Linked DNA regions of Homo sapiens. The protein of the gene in region 1 binds, or shares a complex with, the protein of each later gene. Each region holds a gene or a part of one and is shown in the gene's direction. Other genes may lie near its edges.

What was found.
Region 2: the proteins of KPNB1 (region 1) and PTHLH are in contact, whole or in part, in a crystal structure (PDB 1M5N), measured with the Homo sapiens proteins. Residues at the interface, in NP_002256.2 of Homo sapiens: Val55 (codon at 7,448), Tyr104, Pro106, Gln111, Glu152, Tyr156, Gln159, Asn196, Leu199, Asn200, Gln239, Glu274, Gln278, Glu281, Asp288, Ile295, Ser298, Glu299, Asp339, Asp340, Trp342, Val350, Met353, Glu395, Trp430, Arg434, Glu437, Asn469, Trp472; in NP_945316.1 of Homo sapiens: Tyr103 (codon at 6,169), Thr105 (codon at 6,175), Gln106 (codon at 6,178), Glu107 (codon at 6,181), Thr108 (codon at 6,184), Asn109 (codon at 6,187), Lys110 (codon at 6,190), Val111 (codon at 6,193), Glu112 (codon at 6,196), Thr113 (codon at 6,199), Tyr114 (codon at 6,202), Lys120 (codon at 6,220), Thr121 (codon at 6,223), Pro122 (codon at 6,226), Gly123 (codon at 6,229), Lys124 (codon at 6,232), Lys125 (codon at 6,235), Lys126 (codon at 6,238), Lys127 (codon at 6,241), Lys129 (codon at 6,247).

The regions. Positions count from the first base shown.
Region 1 is NC_000017.11:47,645,310-47,654,732, forward strand, and holds the start of KPNB1 (importin subunit beta-1), read left to right. Parts: upstream 1-4,609; 5' UTR 4,610-4,935; coding exon 4,936-4,975; intron 4,976-5,076; coding exon 5,077-5,135; intron 5,136-5,755; exon of another isoform or gene 5,756-6,067; intron 6,068-7,384; coding exon 7,385-7,567; intron 7,568-9,423.
Region 2 is NC_000012.12:27,960,920-27,969,733, reverse strand, and holds part of PTHLH (parathyroid hormone-related protein isoform 1 preproprotein), read left to right. Parts: exon of another isoform or gene 1-53; intron 54-217; 5' UTR 218-239; coding exon 240-340; intron 341-5,963; coding exon 5,964-6,386; coding exon of another isoform or gene 6,387-6,390; exon of another isoform or gene 6,391-7,413; intron 7,414-8,814. UniProt on the Homo sapiens protein: Neuroendocrine peptide which is a critical regulator of cellular and organ growth, development, migration, differentiation and survival and of epithelial calcium ion transport.

The DNA.
Region 1 (9,423 bases):
CACTTAGCACAAAATACATGGTAAGGAGATAACAGCCAATGCATACATAACATGCTAGACTGGCATTCACCATGTCTTTTATTTATTTTTTTAAATTAAAATTAAAGCTGCCATATTTTTCTTTTCTTTTTTGAGACAGGGTCTCGCTGCGTTACCCAGGCTGGAGTGCAACGGCGTGATCTCGGCTCACTGCAACCTCCACCTCCTGGGTTCAAGTGATTCTCCTGCCTCAGCCTCCCGAGTAGCTGGGATTAAAGGCTCCTGCCACTACGCCTGGCTAATTTTTGTATTAAGTACAGACAGGGTTTCACCATGTTGGCCAGGCTGGCCTCAAACTCCTGGGCTCAAGTGATCCTCCAGCCTTGGCCTCCCAAAGTGCTGTGATTATAGGCATGAGCCACTGCACTCAGCCCATTCACCATGTCTTAACTCACTTAGGACCTCCCTATTTGTCCCTACATAGTAAGGACAATTAATAGTCTCATTTTACATTGAGGAAAGTTAACTCACAAACTAAGAAGTGGTAGAGCTGGGATAGGAACTCAGGCACCCAATTTCTGGAGTCTGTGCTCATCACTCAAGCTCCGGTACCTCACCAGCATTTATTGAATGTGAGTACTTTTGATAAGAACTAAACAGCACCATCAGTAACTTTAGTTCAACTAAAGTCAGTTCATTTTGATTTTGGTAAGGATTTTATGTTTGATTGGAACTTTGCTGTAAAACTTTTATTTTCCCAGCATTTTACTTCAGCCACAGGGTCTAGCTGTCACCCAGGCTGGAGTGCAGGATCATAGGTCACTGCAGCCTTAAACTCCTGGCCTCAAGTAATCCTCCTGCCTCACCCTCCTGAAGTACATGCCACCATGCCCGGCTTTTTCAAAATTGTATGGGTTGGGCGTGGTGGCTCACGCCTGTAATCCCAGCACTTTGGGAGGCCGAGGTGGGCGGATAACTTGTGGTCAGGAGTTTGAAACCAGCCTGGCCAACATGGTGAAACCCCATCTGAAATATAAAAAAAATTAGCTGGGCGTGGTGGTGGGTACCTGTAATCCCAGCTACTTGGGAAAACAAGGGATTGAGAACAAGGGATTGAGTCGAGCTAGTGCTGAGCGGAGGCAAGATCATACAAGACCTTGCCTGCCATGCAAGTGGTTTTGTCTATATCCTAAGAGCAAAGGAGAATTGCTTGAACCCGGGAGGCGGAGGTTGCAGTGAGCTGAGATGGCACCACCGCCCTCCAGCCCGGGTGAAAGCGAGACTCTGTATCAAAAAAAGAAAGAAAGAAAGAAAGAAAATTGTATAGAGACAGGGTTTTGCTCTTATTTCAGTTGCTTTAAAAATCCATTTGCCCTCACTGGTATCATCATGACTGATGTTGAGACAGAGGTAGCCCAGCAAACTGCTGGAGAGCAGGGGAAAGTTAGCTTGAGTGAAACAAATTATGGATAATTTGTAGTGTAGGTAACTCAGGTAAGGACAATTCCAGGATTTTCACAGATGTCATCTCACTTAATCTTCATTGACTTTTTAGCGGCGGTGGGGGGACACAGTCTCACTGTCGCCCAGGCTGGAGTGCAGTGGCGCAATCTCGGCTCACTGCAACCTCTGACTTCTGGGTTCAAGTGATTCTCCTGCCTCAGCCTCCCAAGTAGCTAGGATTACAGGCTCCCACCACCACACCCGGCTAATTTTTGTATTTTTAGTACAGACAGGGTTTCACCATGTTGGTCAGGCTGGCCTCAAACTCCTGGGCTCAAGAGATCCTCCAGCCTCAGCCTCCCAAAGTACTGCAATGACAGGCGTGAGCCACCACGCATGGCCAATCTTCATTGATTTCTTTTTTTTTGAAATGGAGTCTTGCTCTGGCACCCAGGCTGAATGCAGTGTTGTTTTGTTTTGTTTTGTTTTGAGATGGAGTCTTGCTGTCATCCAGGCTGGAGTACAGTGGGTTTTTTTTGAGATGGAGTCTTGCTCTGTCACCCAGGCTGGAGTGCGGTGGTGCAATCTTAGCTCACTACCACCTCTGCCTCACGGGTTCAGGCAATTCTCCTGCCTCAGCCTACTGAGTAGCTGGGATTGATTGCAGGTGCCCACCACCACGCCCGGCTAATTTTGTATTTCAGTAGAGACAGGGTTTCACTGTGTTGGCCAAGCTGGTCTCTAACTCCGGACCTCAGTTGATCTGCCCACCTCAGCCTCCCAAAGTGCTGGGATTAAAGGCGTGACCCACCACGCCCTGGCCCAATCTTCACTGATTTATAACAAAGTTACACACACAGGGCAGTTCTTCCACAGTTAATAGATGAAGCAAAAGGCTGGGGTTAGCTGCTAAGCCATGGGAAATCCACTAGTCACAGTATGGTGTGAGGAATGGTGTCCCTACATTTCTAGCTTCAAAACTGCAAAGATATCTCTAGCAGAGAAAGACCATTTCTTCCTCTTTTAACAAAGAGTTGGCCAATCTTTCCTAATTCTTTGTGAAACCTTTCAACAAAGTCAGACTTCCTCCTAGGTTTTCCCAGTGTGGCTACTGCAGGGCAATTACCTCACAAGCTCAAGTCATATGGTAAAAAGCTCTATGAACCAGCTACATCCAATTACCCCTACATCATTACTGTGAAAATGAAACAATTCAAGAAATTCTTTGTTACCATTTATTTTTTCTTTTTTTGAGAGTCTTAACTGTCGCCCAGGCTGAAGTGCAGTGGTGAAGTCTTGGCTCACTGCAACCTCTGCCTCCCGGGTTCAAGAGATTCTGTCTCAGCCTCCTGAGGAGCTGAGATTATAGGCGTGCGCCACCACGCTCGGCTAGGTTTTTTTTTTTTTTTTGTATTTTTAGTAGAGACAGGGTTTCACCATGTTGGCCAGACTGGTCTTGAACTCCTGACCTCAAGTGATCCGCCCGCCTCGGCCTCCCAAAGTGCTGGGATTACAGGCATGAGCCACCGCGCCCGGCCCTATTATTACACTTTTCCTTTATCATTTTAAAAATCTTCATTTTTTTTAAAAGAGACAGGATCTCGCTAAGTTGTCCAGGTTAGTCTTGAACCCCTGGGCTCAAGCGATCCTCCCAAAGTCCTGGGATTGCAGGCCTGAGCCACATACTGTATGCACATTTTTTTTCTTTTCTTTGAGATGGAGTCTCGCTCTGTCGCCAGGCTGGACTGCAGTGGCGCGATATCGGCTCACTGCAACCTCTGCGTCCAGGGTTCAAGCGATTCTCCTGCCTCAGCCTCAGGAATAGCTTGGACTTCAGGTACGCGCCACCACACCGGGCTAATTTTTTATATTTTAGTAGAGACGGGGTTTCACCATGTTGGCCAGGATGGTCTCGATCTCTTGACTCGTCATCCGCCCCCCTCGGCCTCCCAAAGTGCTGGGATTACAGGCGCGAGCCACAGCGCCCGGCCCACGTTTTCTTTATATGCATTTTGCTAAGAAAAGGCATTCATGAGTTTCTTCCGGGGTTGAGAACTGAAACAGGTTAAGAACCACAATCCTTTATTCCTGTACACACATTCTTTCTGGTTCGAGGTTGGGCCTTTACAGGGTACTTTTGGAGGGTGAAACATTTCCATCCTGTCAAGTACCTGGTAGCTATGGATGGGGGGTCTAAGAGGAGGAATCCCTTAGCTCACCCCTAAGCAAGTCAGATTTATCACAGCACAGGTCTCAAGCCCCATATAAGCAGGCTTAGGGGACTCCTTGGAGAGGAAGCTGCTTGTAGGGACAAGGGCCGTCAGGAGAGCTTGAGCTTATCAAGCCACTAACCAGCTGTGTGACCTTGGACAAGTTCCAGACCCTCTCTGGGCTCCTGAACCCATTCCTTACCAAGCCATTAACCAGCTGTGTGACCTTGGACAAGTTCCATACCCTCTCTGGGCTTCAGTTTCCACATCTACACATTGGCAGTGGAGCCACATGGCCTTACGGATCCCTCCCAGCCGAAAGCAGGGTACCAAGCCGACCTAGCCATTAAAGCAGCTTCCTGTGGGCGCGGCGCAGGACTTCAACAGTCCCCCCTCCCCCGCTCAGGCCCGCGAAAACCTCGCGCAACACGCCCCTCGGAGCGACGGCGCTTACCCAACCGCAGCCCCAGCGCTCGAACCCAGCTCCGCCTCTTCCCGGGGGCGTCCCATCGTGCCCCGCGCCGGGCTCCTAGGGTTGCCGGGCACCTCCCGCCTTCCCGCGCCCCGACCCCGAACTCCTCTCCTTAGTTCTCCCGGGCACCCTATCCTATCAACGCCTACTATCCCAGCCAATCGCGCAGGATCCGAGTCGTGCCTCCGGTCCACCCTCCTCCCAGCGCTCAGCCGGTCTGAGCTCAAGGCCTTTACCAAGCCCACCCAATCAACGGCGGGCTCTCTCCTACCCCATCCCAATCTCCCTCCCCTCGGCCAATCCGCGCGCTCCATTCCGCTGCCCGCCCAGCCAACCCGGGCCTTGAAACCAGCAGGCGAATGGGCGCGAGACGGCCCTTCGACGCTGAGCGCCTGGCCAGTTAGGGATTCCGCGTGGCCAGGACAACGGCCAATCGTCGTGGAGCGCGGCGCCTCCGCGGAGAGGTCCGGTCCGAATATCCCTCCGCCTTCCTCCCTCCCTCGCTCCCTCCCTGCGCGCCGCCTCTCACTCACAGCCTCCCTTCCTTCTTTCTCCCTCCGCCTCCCGAGCACCAGCGCGCTCTGAGCTGCCCCCAGGGTCCCTCCCCCGCCGCCAGCAGCCCATTTGGAGGGAGGAAGTAAGGGAAGAGGAGAGGAAGGGGAGCCGGACCGACTACCCAGACAGAGCCGGTGAATGGGTTTGTGGTGACCCCCGCCCCCCACCCCACCCTCCCTTCCCACCCGACCCCCAACCCCCATCCCCAGTTCGAGCCGCCGCCCGAAAGGCCGGGCCGTCGTCTTAGGAGGAGTCGCCGCCGCCGCCACCTCCGCCATGGAGCTGATCACCATTCTCGAGAAGACCGTGTCTCCCGGTAGGACGCAGGAGCCGGGGGTAGGGCTGAGGTGATTGGGGTGGGGGAGGGGAGGCCCGGCCCCTCTGACCCCGCTCCGTCTCCCACTTTCCTCCCCCTAGATCGGCTGGAGCTGGAAGCGGCGCAGAAGTTCCTGGAGCGTGCGGCCGTGGAGAACCTGGTGCGTGCTACCCCGCCGCGCCCATCCCGCCGCGTCCCCATCCCCTGCGTGCGGGGCCTTCCCGCCCTCCCGGAGGCCCAGGCCTCGGGAACCTACCCCGCCCCATCCCGTCCCCCTCCCCCCTCCCCCTCCCCCCCCAACCCGGTCCAACCTAACCCCGCCATCGGGAAGCCGGTGGGTGTGTCCCGCCCCGGGCCTCGCGACTGGCCAATGGCTTGGCGCGCCGAGCTGCCTGCCGCCCAATCGTTGCGCGGCCTGAGGGCGGCGGTGCAGCGGGAGGGAGAAAGAGGGAGGGAAGGGAAGTTAGGTTGCGCGGCGCTGCGTGTTCAGCAGGGGTGGGGGCGGGGGAGTCGGGCCTAGGGGCCATGTGGAAGCTCCGGGCCCGGCCGCCCGCCCTGTCTGACCCCGGCCGGCTTCTCCTTCCTATCCCGTGGCCCCTGTGGCTCTCCCCACCTATTTCCTAGAGCTCTGCCCTTTCCTAGCTACCTTGGTCTGTACTCATGGCCAGGCCTGGCACCCGACTGCCTCTTAACCCATTTCCACTGATATTTTTCCCTCTTTGCTCGGTTATTCCTCTCTTGGGGTTTTTTCTTTTTCTTTCTTTCTTTTTTTTTTTTCTTCTGACCTGGATGAATAGAGACCTAATCACTAGGGATCTGCACCCAGAAAACAGACTGAGGCTCATCTTTGAGATGGGGCCTGTTTGCTGATGAAATCACAGGGGAAAGTTCCTCGTTTTTCATATTTTAAAATTTAAGGGGTCCGGAGAAAATGAAGCTAAGTCCGCTAGAGACTGGTCCTTTGTATAAAAATGTGGGATGGATTGGTTGAAACAGCCTAGATGCCAGTTAAGTTTCTCTTTGGTGTCCATCTCCTGTTGGGGGATGGGGTCAGAGGGAAGGATTGGATGATGCTTGACATCTTTGAGAAAGGTAATAGGAATTAAGTCTGAGTAACACTAACCATATGTGTTCCTTTGTGTTATATAGGCAAAATGTCAACATCAACAAAGTGACAAGGCTTATTTTATACAGACTGCCTTTGAATGATTTTTTTGTTGTTTTTCATATGTGCCAATTTTTACAACTAACCTGTTTATCCTTTCCTAGAAGAGATTTTTCCACTAGTATAGGCTGATAATTCCATTTAGGGTATTATTCCTGTTTCTGCTTTTGCAAATTTTGCAAAAAGCTTTTTATCTTATTCCTAACATTCTTAACATTCTTTAGTGGTACATAATTAATAAAACTTTTAAGAATTATCTTCTGCTGTGATTGCAGAGCTTGTTAGCAGTAAGAAAAATGTGTCTGCTTTTGACTTTTCCTGCTAACTTTGCTGTTTGGGCACGGTTTTTGGTGGAGAGGTGTGTGTGTGCTAAATTTTTAAACAAAGGGAGTAGTTTTTGAGGCCTGTGGATTACAAAAGGTTACAAAAGAACATGCTTTTCAGGGATCCACTGTATTCCTCAACTAAAGTCCAAATGTAAAGGAGCAAGTAATTGTTGATCATTAGATACAAAGTTATTTTGCTTGAACAGCTTGCCTGAAGATTTTTTCTTTCACTTTTTCCCTATTTCTAAATATCTTATCACTTTTCCTTATAAATCTGCTTTTTTCATTGTTCCCTTTTTGCTGAGTGCCCACAAATAAAACGGAGGATGAGGCTCCTAAGTTTGTTTTAGGCTTATCTGTATTTCCCCCTCTCATAAAAGATCACCTCCTTCCATGGATTGAAAAGCTACCCTGCTGCTGCCATGAGATGGAAAGTTGGATCATTCTTTTGGGACCAAGGTTTTTGAAATTTAGATAAACAGTTTTATTTTCTACCCCCCATCATAACAGCCATTCATTTAACAAACATTGAGTACCAGACATTATTAAAAGTTCTTGGGACACCTCAGTATACATAGAAGACTGACTACTACTACCATACTCTGAAACCTTGCAATTCGGGGGTCTAACATGACAATTTGGGCACTAAGAATGATCTTGATAGGGAAATCTGTAATTCCTCATTAAGTGCTAGGCTCCACGAGAAAAGTGGAAGACTTCCTGTTACACTAAGTAACATTTTTATAGAAGTCAGTGAAGTAAATATTTTGTGGTTTCCTGAAATGCTTATATCAAAAAAAAATTAGACATTAGTTCCCCCCCTCGCCGCCCCTCTGGTGGTTCAGTGCTCTATAAATTATCCTCAGTTGTGGAAATTCCTAAGATATTTTTATTTACAAATTTATCTTCCCTTAACAGCCCACTTTCCTTGTGGAACTGTCCAGAGTGCTGGCAAATCCAGGAAACAGTCAGGTTGCCAGAGTTGCAGCTGGTCTACAAATCAAGAACTCTTTGACATCTAAAGATCCAGATATCAAGGCACAATATCAGCAGAGGTGGCTTGCTATTGATGCTAATGCTCGACGAGAAGTCAAGAACTATGTGAGTAACGCTTATCTGTTTGGTTATATTGCCCAGAGAACAAGAAATCGCTTTCTCAGATCTTTTGCTATTTGCATGGGATAGAGCTAACAGTGTGATAGGTTTCTGGGACCTCAACTTTACCTAAAGATAAAAATTGTCTTTGTCTTAAATCTTTCTCAACACAGCTTGTCCATTCCCATTGATGGATTGGAATTCTTTTTAGATGACTGAGGTAGGCTGCAGCAGTTTGGGAAACTTTAATTACGTGCCATAATTGGTAAAATCTGTTTGGCAAATGGGAGTAGTGTACAAATTGGTGCTACATTTGTATAAAAATTAGGGAATTTGTTAATAGGTATTTCCAAGCTCTCCAGAAATTCCGATTCGGTACTTCTGGAGTACAGCTCAGGGAATTTTTTTTTTTTTTTTTTTTTGGAGACAGTCTTGCTCTGTTGCCCAGGCTGGAGTGCAATGGCATGATCTCGGCTCACTGCAGCCTCCGCCTCCCAAGTAGCTGGGATTACAGGCACCCACCACCATGCCCAGCTAATTTTTGTACTTGAAGTAGAGACGGGGTTTCACCATGTTGGCCAGGCTGGTCTTGAACTCCTGACCTCAGGTGATCTGCCTGCCTTGGCTTCCCAAAGTGCTGGGATTACAGGAGTGAGCCACCTCGCCTGGCTGTTGTTGTTTTTAAATTAAGTTCTTTAGTGATCTGTCTTACATGGGTAAGGCACAAAGAGGAGTGAGTTAAATATCTGTGCAGTCATCATTTTGTCCTTGGTATTTGAGTGGAAACTAGTGGGGAATTCCTACATATGTACTTGTGCAGGACATGGTTATGCACATCATACTTGCTATTTCCTGGTTCTAGATATCAGCATTAGGTAAAGTAGTGCCCTGTAAGGCAGTAACTTCTGTATCTGGTTGTGTACCTCCTTCTGTCACCAATCTTGCATACCCATGATAAGGAGCCGGGTTATTAAATCCAACTTGGTTTCAAATCGTTTTGGAGCATGTAGAGCTGTTTCTATTCATGTTGGTTCTGCTTGTGTAATAACAACATTTTAATTCCTTCTCCCTCAGCTAAGTGACATAAATGGAAGTATATTCTATCACTGGAAATCTCGATACTGATAGTGCCCATTCAGTTTCTCATCTTCCTTAATTTACACACTAGTAAATGGGATAAGATGTAATTGGAATTGTAATTGGCTTATTTTTTGGCACATCACTCTTAACACCAACCCTTTAAAAAAAAATTAGACAATAATGGCTGGGCGCAGTGGCTCATGCCTGTCATCCCAGCACTTTGAGAGGCCGAGGTGGGTGGATCACCTGAGGTCAGGAGTTCGAGACCAGCCTGGCCAACATGGCGAAACCCTGTCTCTACTAAAAATACAAAAATTAGCTGGCTGTGGCGGTGGATACCTGTAGTCTCAGCTACTCTGGAGGCTTAGGCAGGAGAATTGCTTGAACCTGGGAGGCGGAGATTGTGGTGAGCCAAGATTGCGCATTGCACTCCAGCCTGGGTGACAGAGTGACACTCCATTTCTTAAAAAAAAAAAAAAAAAAAAAATTAGATAATTTGTATAGGCATGGTTAAGCCCTCGGGCATGAGAAAAAAGCTAACAGTACCTTGGCCTTTTTCCCTTTCATAGCACAACGATAACTAATACTAAGTTTCACTGTTGGTGATCTTTTTTGAAATCTGGATATTGGGGCACAATTGGGAGCTAGTTTCTCTTTTCTGATAATTGAATATTACTATTAAGGTTACCTCTAGTTTAAACAGAAAACTTTTAGTACTCAGGAGGTGGACATCCGTAGTTTCTAAATCACCTCAAGTAATATGGAGTCTTCAGAAAGCAATC
Region 2 (8,814 bases), on another chromosome or scaffold:
TCTGGCTGTGTGGTTTGGAGAAAGCACAGTTGGAGTAGCCGGTTGCTAAATAAGTAAGTGCTGAGAGGCTCCAGAGAAATTTTTTTTCTTTTCAACTTGGGAGATGCCCTTGATGTTGAAGAGGCTTTTTGAGAGCGGGCTAAAAAGGGGGAGCGGAGTAGTGCGGGGAGATGGAGAGTCCAGACTGACACTCGGGTCCCATTCCCTTCTGTTGCAGGTCCCGAGCGCGAGCGGAGACGATGCAGCGGAGACTGGTTCAGCAGTGGAGCGTCGCGGTGTTCCTGCTGAGCTACGCGGTGCCCTCCTGCGGGCGCTCGGTGGAGGGTCTCAGCCGCCGCCTGTAAGTGCCCCATCCTCCCCAGGGCGCCGGGTTGGGGAGGCCAGGGGGAGGGGCTGCCAAGCTGGGATGCTGCCGAGGGCTTGCAGCGGTCACCGATGCTCCTTGCCCGGGTTAGGGAGAGGGACCATCCCGGATACCTGCCGGGGCCTGAGCCCGGGTCCTCAAACCTGGCAGGAGAACTGGTTGATCTTCAACGGGAGACAGGCAAGAGAGAGACTTTATGTGTGTTTCCATAAGAGGGAGCGTTTCACAGAATCTCTTCTAGGGAAAGATCCTCTGCCTCTAGTGGAAAAGAAAAAAAGTTGGGGGGTGGTGGTTACTGTCAGGACCCGGGAAGCTTCTGAAACTCGGAGGAAGCTGAGCGGTCCTGGGGACGTATGGCCTGCGCGCTTGTATACATACTGAATGTGGGTGGCGGTTTGCGTGTGAAAAAGCAAAAGCCGTACATCTAATTTTATTATGAATGACATAATTTTAAGCATATAAAATAGGAACACATTACATAATAAAAGCGTATTATATAATAAAGTAGCAACAACTTTGCAGTGGCACGACTCCAATGTTAGTATTGATACAGTTCAGGAACGCTAGAGCGCTTGATTCCAAAATGAATTTTAGGTGTGGAACCTTTTTTTTCTTGGAGTTATTGCTAACAGTTCTTTAATCTGGAGTCAAATATTTGCATTGTAGACTGAAAACTTGTATTTTGGCATTCTCACTTGGTGATTCTTTTAATGATAACTTCAACTTTGAAATAATCATACATCCAAGCACACCAGAGAAATATCACTATGTCGTGTGACTGAAAACTTGGAAGAGTGATAGAGTAACATGATCTTAATAATCTGTTGGACCTAGCAGTTCACTAATGTGTATAACACCATAGTTGGGTGATCTTTAAACTGCAGACTCAGTGTTCAGAATGGGAAAACTATAAAGTTCGAGAACTGAGATGCGTTTGACTCTGGAGAAGGAATTAAGGCAAATTTTTACACTAACAATAAAAATAGCAGTATCTAATATTTACAGTCAGGTTTATGGTGCTTCCTTGTAAATTCCCGAGGGTGTACAAAAAGGCAACTGTTTTATACGTGCTTGTGGTCTATTATTATTAGAGGAGAAAATCCTTAAATGAAATTACTTTAGACATGTCGGAACCTTGGCATCAAAATGAAAATCTATTATGAATCTCCTAAGGCAAATTGTGTAGAACATTATACCGAAGATAAGGCTGCATTGTATTCTTCAGATCAACATTTTACCGATGTGTTTCTGAAAATTGTCTTCAGACTTTTTGCTCATTTTGAAACTTGTCTTAAATTCAATAATTTGAAATTCATACATAAATAGAAATGAAGACTGAATTTTTAAAAGCACACTTAAATACTATATTTATTTGGCTAAGAAATACTACCTTGGAACAGAGCCAATTTTTTCTTTAAAGTTGCTTAAGAAATACCTGTTTTCTCTTTTGAGAAACAGCAAATGATTCACGATTATATACACAACTATGGCATAAAAATACTGCTAAGTTGTCCTAAAGGCTATTTTTAACTCTTTCTTTGTTGCACCTTACAAAACACACATCAGAAACCATTTAGCAGCCAGCGACTGTTATAGTTTTGTTTGTGGGTGAAATATAATATTGTAGTTAAACACTCACACTCAGCAGATGGTTATAAAACTACCACAAAACATTCTCATAGTTAATGGGTAATAGATCATCACATTACAGGCATGGTTTTTCATGGAGGCTGAAATCATCAGTAGATGAAGATGTTTCATCAAATTATCATAGCCAAATGGAGTTTTTAAAAACAAGTCATTATTTTTGTCTTGCTGCCAAGTAACAGTAAATTTTGTGTGCTAGACAAAACATAAGTCTACCATTATGCTAAATCAAGCTAGTTTCTTGAAAGAAATTTTAACATATAATCAAACCATATTACTCCCCGGTTTTCACACCAAGTATTAGGGAAACTGCTTTAGAAGTATAGATTTTTTTTTTAACTAGATGCTAACTTTTAAGGGAGAGGAAATTACTATAACAATAAGACTTCCTAAACCATGCAAAGGAAGCAGTTACAAATTGTGAGTCTTTTTGACCTGTTAATCCCAAAGATTTTAATTAATGGAGCTAGAGCATGATCAAGTTGGATACTGGAAAGTGAGGCCTATGGATGTTCTTGTGCAGATGAACAAGGCTTCTGGCAGGTGGCTATCTCTATGTTTAAGTTAGAGAGGGAACTCCACAGATTCAGAAACCTAAAACGTCATTGGCTGATTTGCTTAGGAGCCAGACTGGGTCTATTCCATTTAATGAAAAGCATAACTTTCTACTGAGTCATTTGGGTTGGAAGGACCTTCTGGTGAGTCATCTTAACTCTAACACCCTAACCCTGTCTCTTGCATGTACCACAGAACTTTTCTTCTCAAACACAGAGTCCGTCCTTAGAAGCCTAGCATCAGTACAAGCATACTGCTTCTTCCTGTGCTGGAAAGGGAATTTCCATCACTGTTTTTATGCCCTCTGTTCCTTGATAGTTCCTTAGAAATCTAAGCTTCTTCCCTAAAAACTCCCTTGGAGTGATTTTTTTTTTAAAGGAGAAGAACTATGTTTGGGCTGAATTTAGGGTTATCTATGATAAGCATTTCCCCAAAATTTTGCAATTTTTTTTTACAATAATCAAAGGAGAACATGATACATAACCTACCTGTTTTTCCATTTTGGAGCTTAGGTATGTAAGTGTCATGTGAACCATAGTGCTATGTAATGTTTACAGACAAATTGAGTAAAAGACTATTATTGAGGCCATATTTACAACTTAAATATTTCAGAGTTATCTAAATTGAAAACGTCCTTAATTTGAATTTATTACTCACTACCTCTGTATACCTAGTTTATACTGATGCCATTATATTCCTGATCCTCTAATGCAACTGCCTAGTGAGAGATTCATTCTTCACAATACTTTAATTGCAGAAGTTTTTGAAATACTAAGTAAAGTGTCTAACAGCATTTCCAATTTAGCATTTAAGAAAACTTGTGTTTTCCAAGATACTAACAGTTTCCCCCAAAAGGCAGATGAAAAGCTTTGTCCCTCGTAAGCAATGTACTATTTTAAATTGAACAAAGCTGTGCCATATTGTAGGCTTTTTATAAATTAGAAGGATGGAATGATCACTGCATTTCCCAAGAGAACTATCCTGGGAAAATGCAGCTTGAGTTAGGAAGGCACTGTGACTCACAGTTGACAGGCTGGCCAAGATGACAAGCACATATGCCCATGAGAAGGGGCATATGAGCAATGGTGGCTTAATTAGAATAGACCAACCATTAAAAGTTTTGGCCTCAAGTTAAGCTAAAATGGGCTACACTTTATCCATTTGGAGAGCAATACAGAAGACGAGGGCTTCTGCCAGGAACAGAGAAAGAAATAAAAGCCCCCAATACTATAAATTATCAGTGGTTAAGAACTGCTTTTTAATGTGACATTTTGCTAAAAGATACTTATTAAACTGTAGTGCTTATGAAATATGCAATTATATCTGTCCTATTATTTTATAAATGTTATTAAAGGATATAAATACCTTGTACCAAAGCCTCAAACTTGTAGATTCTTAAAAGTTTCCAGAATACTAACTATTACCGCAGAGTAAGTGAATTTTAATCTAGTCACATGTGGCACCTTCTAAAAGAAAGAGAGACTCCTTCATGCCTCATTTAAACCAGGCTCCTGTTAAATTCCTTTCCATTAAGTCATGTCTTTTTTGAATGAGCTACATGGCTTCAAGTCAGTCCACACACTAAAATACTAGAAGGTAGCTGACATTCTAGCTAGAAGGGCCAGAGAAATGATGACTGTATTTTCATCTCTTACTCTTTTCTTTGACTCATTCATCCAGTGATAATCCAAACTCTTGTAGTTCCTAAATTTGATGATGAAAATGAACTTTCTGGGCAATAGGCTTGATCTTCAAGGAAACTGATAAATTTCTGTCCAATCTGCCTATTATTGTGGTGGCTTGTTACTCTATGCCCCATGCATATACCCTGTACTCTCCTTACCGTGTTGCCTCAACACAGGAACAGGCTGGGACTTCAGCTTCAGCTTCCGCTTAGGCAGGAGAAAGCGTTGAGGAAATTGAAAAAGCAGTCTTGGCTTTAGAATCAGAAGACCTAGTTTTTGGAGCCCTGGCTCTGCCAGTTCTCATTGTGTAGACTAGGGCAAGTCATTTAACCTCTCTGCACCTCACTTTCCCCATGAATACAATGGGGGCAGTAATAATGCTATTTATGATTGCCATATTTCTCTGAGGAGTTAAAGACATTGCACCAACAAAGGCAACAAAGGACCCAGACACCATTGTTTCAGGGAAGTAAGAGTACATGGGATGTAGCCCTGGGAAACACTTTGAGATGCTTTTGAGGATGGGCCAGTTTGGAGGACTATTCCAATGGTAGAAATTGGAGTTAATGCAGAGTTGAAGCAGGCATGATATGACTGATTAACAGATGCAGTCCGTAAATATGGTTAATAATATACACAAAATAATAAAAGAATACACAATGGACATTTAAGCAAGAGTTTGGGTGTTATCTAAAAGGATTGATAGAGAATTAGTTTATTCTTTCTCACGATATTTTCATTAGAGTGTCATTTAAATAGAAAAATCCTTTATATTTTTTCCTAGAGAATTTTAAGACAAAGAGAGCAAGTAGAAAAGTGAACTTCTCAACTAAGTAGTAAGGATCATACTCTCTGAAGTTCTAAATTTAAAAAAAAAACATGAAGCACAGAAGAAATAGAATGAGCTCATTTAAGCACACAAAGAAACCCATTTTAAGGAGACCACCCACTACTTTACAGAAAAATACACATACTCTCCCTCTCTTTCTCTCTCTCTCTCTCTCTCTCTCTGACGATTGGCCTTCAAATGTATGTTCTTGGTAGCCAGTAGTCTAAAATGTTAAAGTTCAGTCTGTGAATCAGATGGTTTCCTAGACAGGCTACACTGCTCACTTCTCCTTCAGCCTTTGTTTGTTTTTACTCTTACGGCTTGCTGTTTCAATATTATTATTTTCTTAATGGGGCGTGTGTGTGTGTGTGTGAGAGAGAGAGAGGAGAGAGAGAGAGAGAGAGAGAGAGAGAGAGAGAATACTCAGGTAAAAGCAGCTGCCTTTTATTTCCCAGGCTGGGACTTCTAGATTTATTTTCTCAGCAGAACTCTGAAAAATGTGAAGAGATACTCCGTGGTTTCTGTCTATTTCTGATCATAACTGAATCATATGTTTTAAACCGGGAAGGAAGTATAGAAATCACTGTCTCTGACCCCTTCCTTTTATACAGTTGAAGCCCATGAGGCCCAAGAATGTTCATGTTCCCACCAAGGTCACAACCTAGTGAGTGGTAGAACTGGGACCATGAGCTGGAGCCTTCCAACTGCCAGCTCTTTCCTTCCCACTGGTTACCCTTCCCTGCGCAATGAGCTTGCTACCCATCCAGCTTGTGTCTTACGGTGGACCAACTAGAAAACTAAAGAGATTTACTCATGTCTTTGTTGTCTCTATCAGCAACTAAAATTTAACTGTTTTCTTCCCCTCTAATATTTTCTTTCAAAGCAAAAGAGCTGTGTCTGAACATCAGCTCCTCCATGACAAGGGGAAGTCCATCCAAGATTTACGGCGACGATTCTTCCTTCACCATCTGATCGCAGAAATCCACACAGCTGAAATCAGAGCTACCTCGGAGGTGTCCCCTAACTCCAAGCCCTCTCCCAACACAAAGAACCACCCCGTCCGATTTGGGTCTGATGATGAGGGCAGATACCTAACTCAGGAAACTAACAAGGTGGAGACGTACAAAGAGCAGCCGCTCAAGACACCTGGGAAGAAAAAGAAAGGCAAGCCCGGGAAACGCAAGGAGCAGGAAAAGAAAAAACGGCGAACTCGCTCTGCCTGGTTAGACTCTGGAGTGACTGGGAGTGGGCTAGAAGGGGACCACCTGTCTGACACCTCCACAACGTCGCTGGAGCTCGATTCACGGTAACAGGCTTCTCTGGCCCGTAGCCTCAGCGGGGTGCTCTCAGCTGGGTTTTGGAGCCTCCCTTCTGCCTTGGCTTGGACAAACCTAGAATTTTCTCCCTTTATGTATCTCTATCGATTGTGTAGCAATTGACAGAGAATAACTCAGAATATTGTCTGCCTTAAAGCAGTACCCCCCTACCACACACACCCCTGTCCTCCAGCACCATAGAGAGGCGCTAGAGCCCATTCCTCTTTCTCCACCGTCACCCAACATCAATCCTTTACCACTCTACCAAATAATTTCATATTCAAGCTTCAGAAGCTAGTGACCATCTTCATAATTTGCTGGAGAAGTGTGTTTCTTCCCCTTACTCTCACACCTGGGCAAACTTTCTTCAGTGTTTTTCATTTCTTACGTTCTTTCACTTCAAGGGAGAATATAGAAGCATTTGATATTATCTACAAACACTGCAGAACAGCATCATGTCATAAACGATTCTGAGCCATTCACACTTTTTATTTAATTAAATGTATTTAATTAAATCTCAAATTTATTTTAATGTAAAGAACTTAAATTATGTTTTAAACACATGCCTTAAATTTGTTTAATTAAATTTAACTCTGGTTTCTACCAGCTCATACAAAATAAATGGTTTCTGAAAATGTTTAAGTATTAACTTACAAGGATATAGGTTTTTCTCATGTATCTTTTTGTTCATTGGCAAGATGAAATAATTTTTCTAGGGTAATGCCGTAGGAAAAATAAAACTTCACATTTATGTGGCTTGTTTATCCTTAGCTCACAGATTGAGGTAATAATGACACTCCTAGACTTTGGGATCAAATAACTTAGGGCCAAGTCTTGGGTCTGAATTTATTTAAGTTCACAACCTAGGGCAAGTTACTCTGCCTTTCTAAGACTCACTTACATCTTCTGTGAAATATAATTGTACCAACCTCATAGAGTTTGGTGTCAACTAAATGAGATTATATGTGGACTAAATATCTGTCATATAGTAAACACTCAATAAATTGCAACATATTATTTTGGTGTTTTTGGAACTAGTTCTGATTGTACCATCTACCTATCTATAATCTATTTCTATCTATCTATCTATCTATCTATCTATCTAGGGGGGTATGTTTCTATGAGGCAAAAAGTGGGGCAAATATTAATCCCATTTTATAAAATAGAAAGCCAAGGCATTCCACGGCTAAAAGACCTGAGTAGTCCTTGGAATTGAAATAGGTGGCCCCAAAGCTGGATTTATCTCCCTGTTTTCTGACACGTAGACAGTGCTATGTTTGCCCTGCTTCTTTATCGATGCATTTCCATTGAAATGATTTTTTTTTCTTTTCACTTTTCAGTACAGCACTTCTGTGGGGTTTGAAAAAAAAAAAGGAAAACAACAGAAGAACACATCATATGCAACTAATGATCTCATTATTTAAGAGTCCCCTGTTACTTCTTTAGTCATTTCCTTTGACTCTGCTACAGATAGGATTATAGGATGATGCTTCAAAGGGGACCTTGAACCTATTCACCATTATTTGTCTCTTTAAGCTGGCAAACCCATCATTAAATAGCACATAAAATAGCAATCATATGGGATAAGTAGTACAGCTTCAGTAATCAATGGGCAGTGGCACTAGAAAAATCTTGAGCACAGTGAATGACCTATCCTGCAAACATCTAATGGATCTCTAAAGGGTAACAAACCCTATAAATTCTGGCTTACTGCACATATTTAGTGTGTTTTAAGATAGGATCCTAACTGTATATATTTATAACTAATGTAAGGACCCTACTTTATTGCCAAAACCTATTTTTATCCATTGTCTCATATATATAAACATGTCATATATATAAACATATATATATAAACATATATGTATATAGTAAACATTCAATAAATTGCAACATATTATTTTGGTGTTTTTAGACCTAGTTCTGATTGTATCCTCTACCTATCATCTATCTATTTATATCTATCTATCTATCTAGGGGGATATGTTTCTATGAGGCAAAAAGTATATATATACGTATATATATATATATATATACGTATATATATATACGTATATATATGAGTTATAAAAAGAGGTATAAATAACTTTTGATGGATTTTATTTATTTCAAATTTGCAATGTTCTTTAAGTATCTGGAGAATTGATGAAAATTAACACTCGTCAATTCTTACGCCTGGAACTACCCCTAAGTTAAAGTAGGTCTAGTGAAAATTAGACAGTGGCCTAATCAAATCCAGACCTAGGGCTGAAAGAAATAGGAGGTTTCTGCTTTTCCTTTCTCTTCCCTGTTTGTGAGGGACATTCATGGAAAGAACTGTTTGGCAGCCAAATGTTGGCACTCTCCCAACACAATCCAACAGAGGTTCAGGGAAGAGTGAGGAAGCTTAGGAGTGTATTGATGAGAATGTATGGGGCC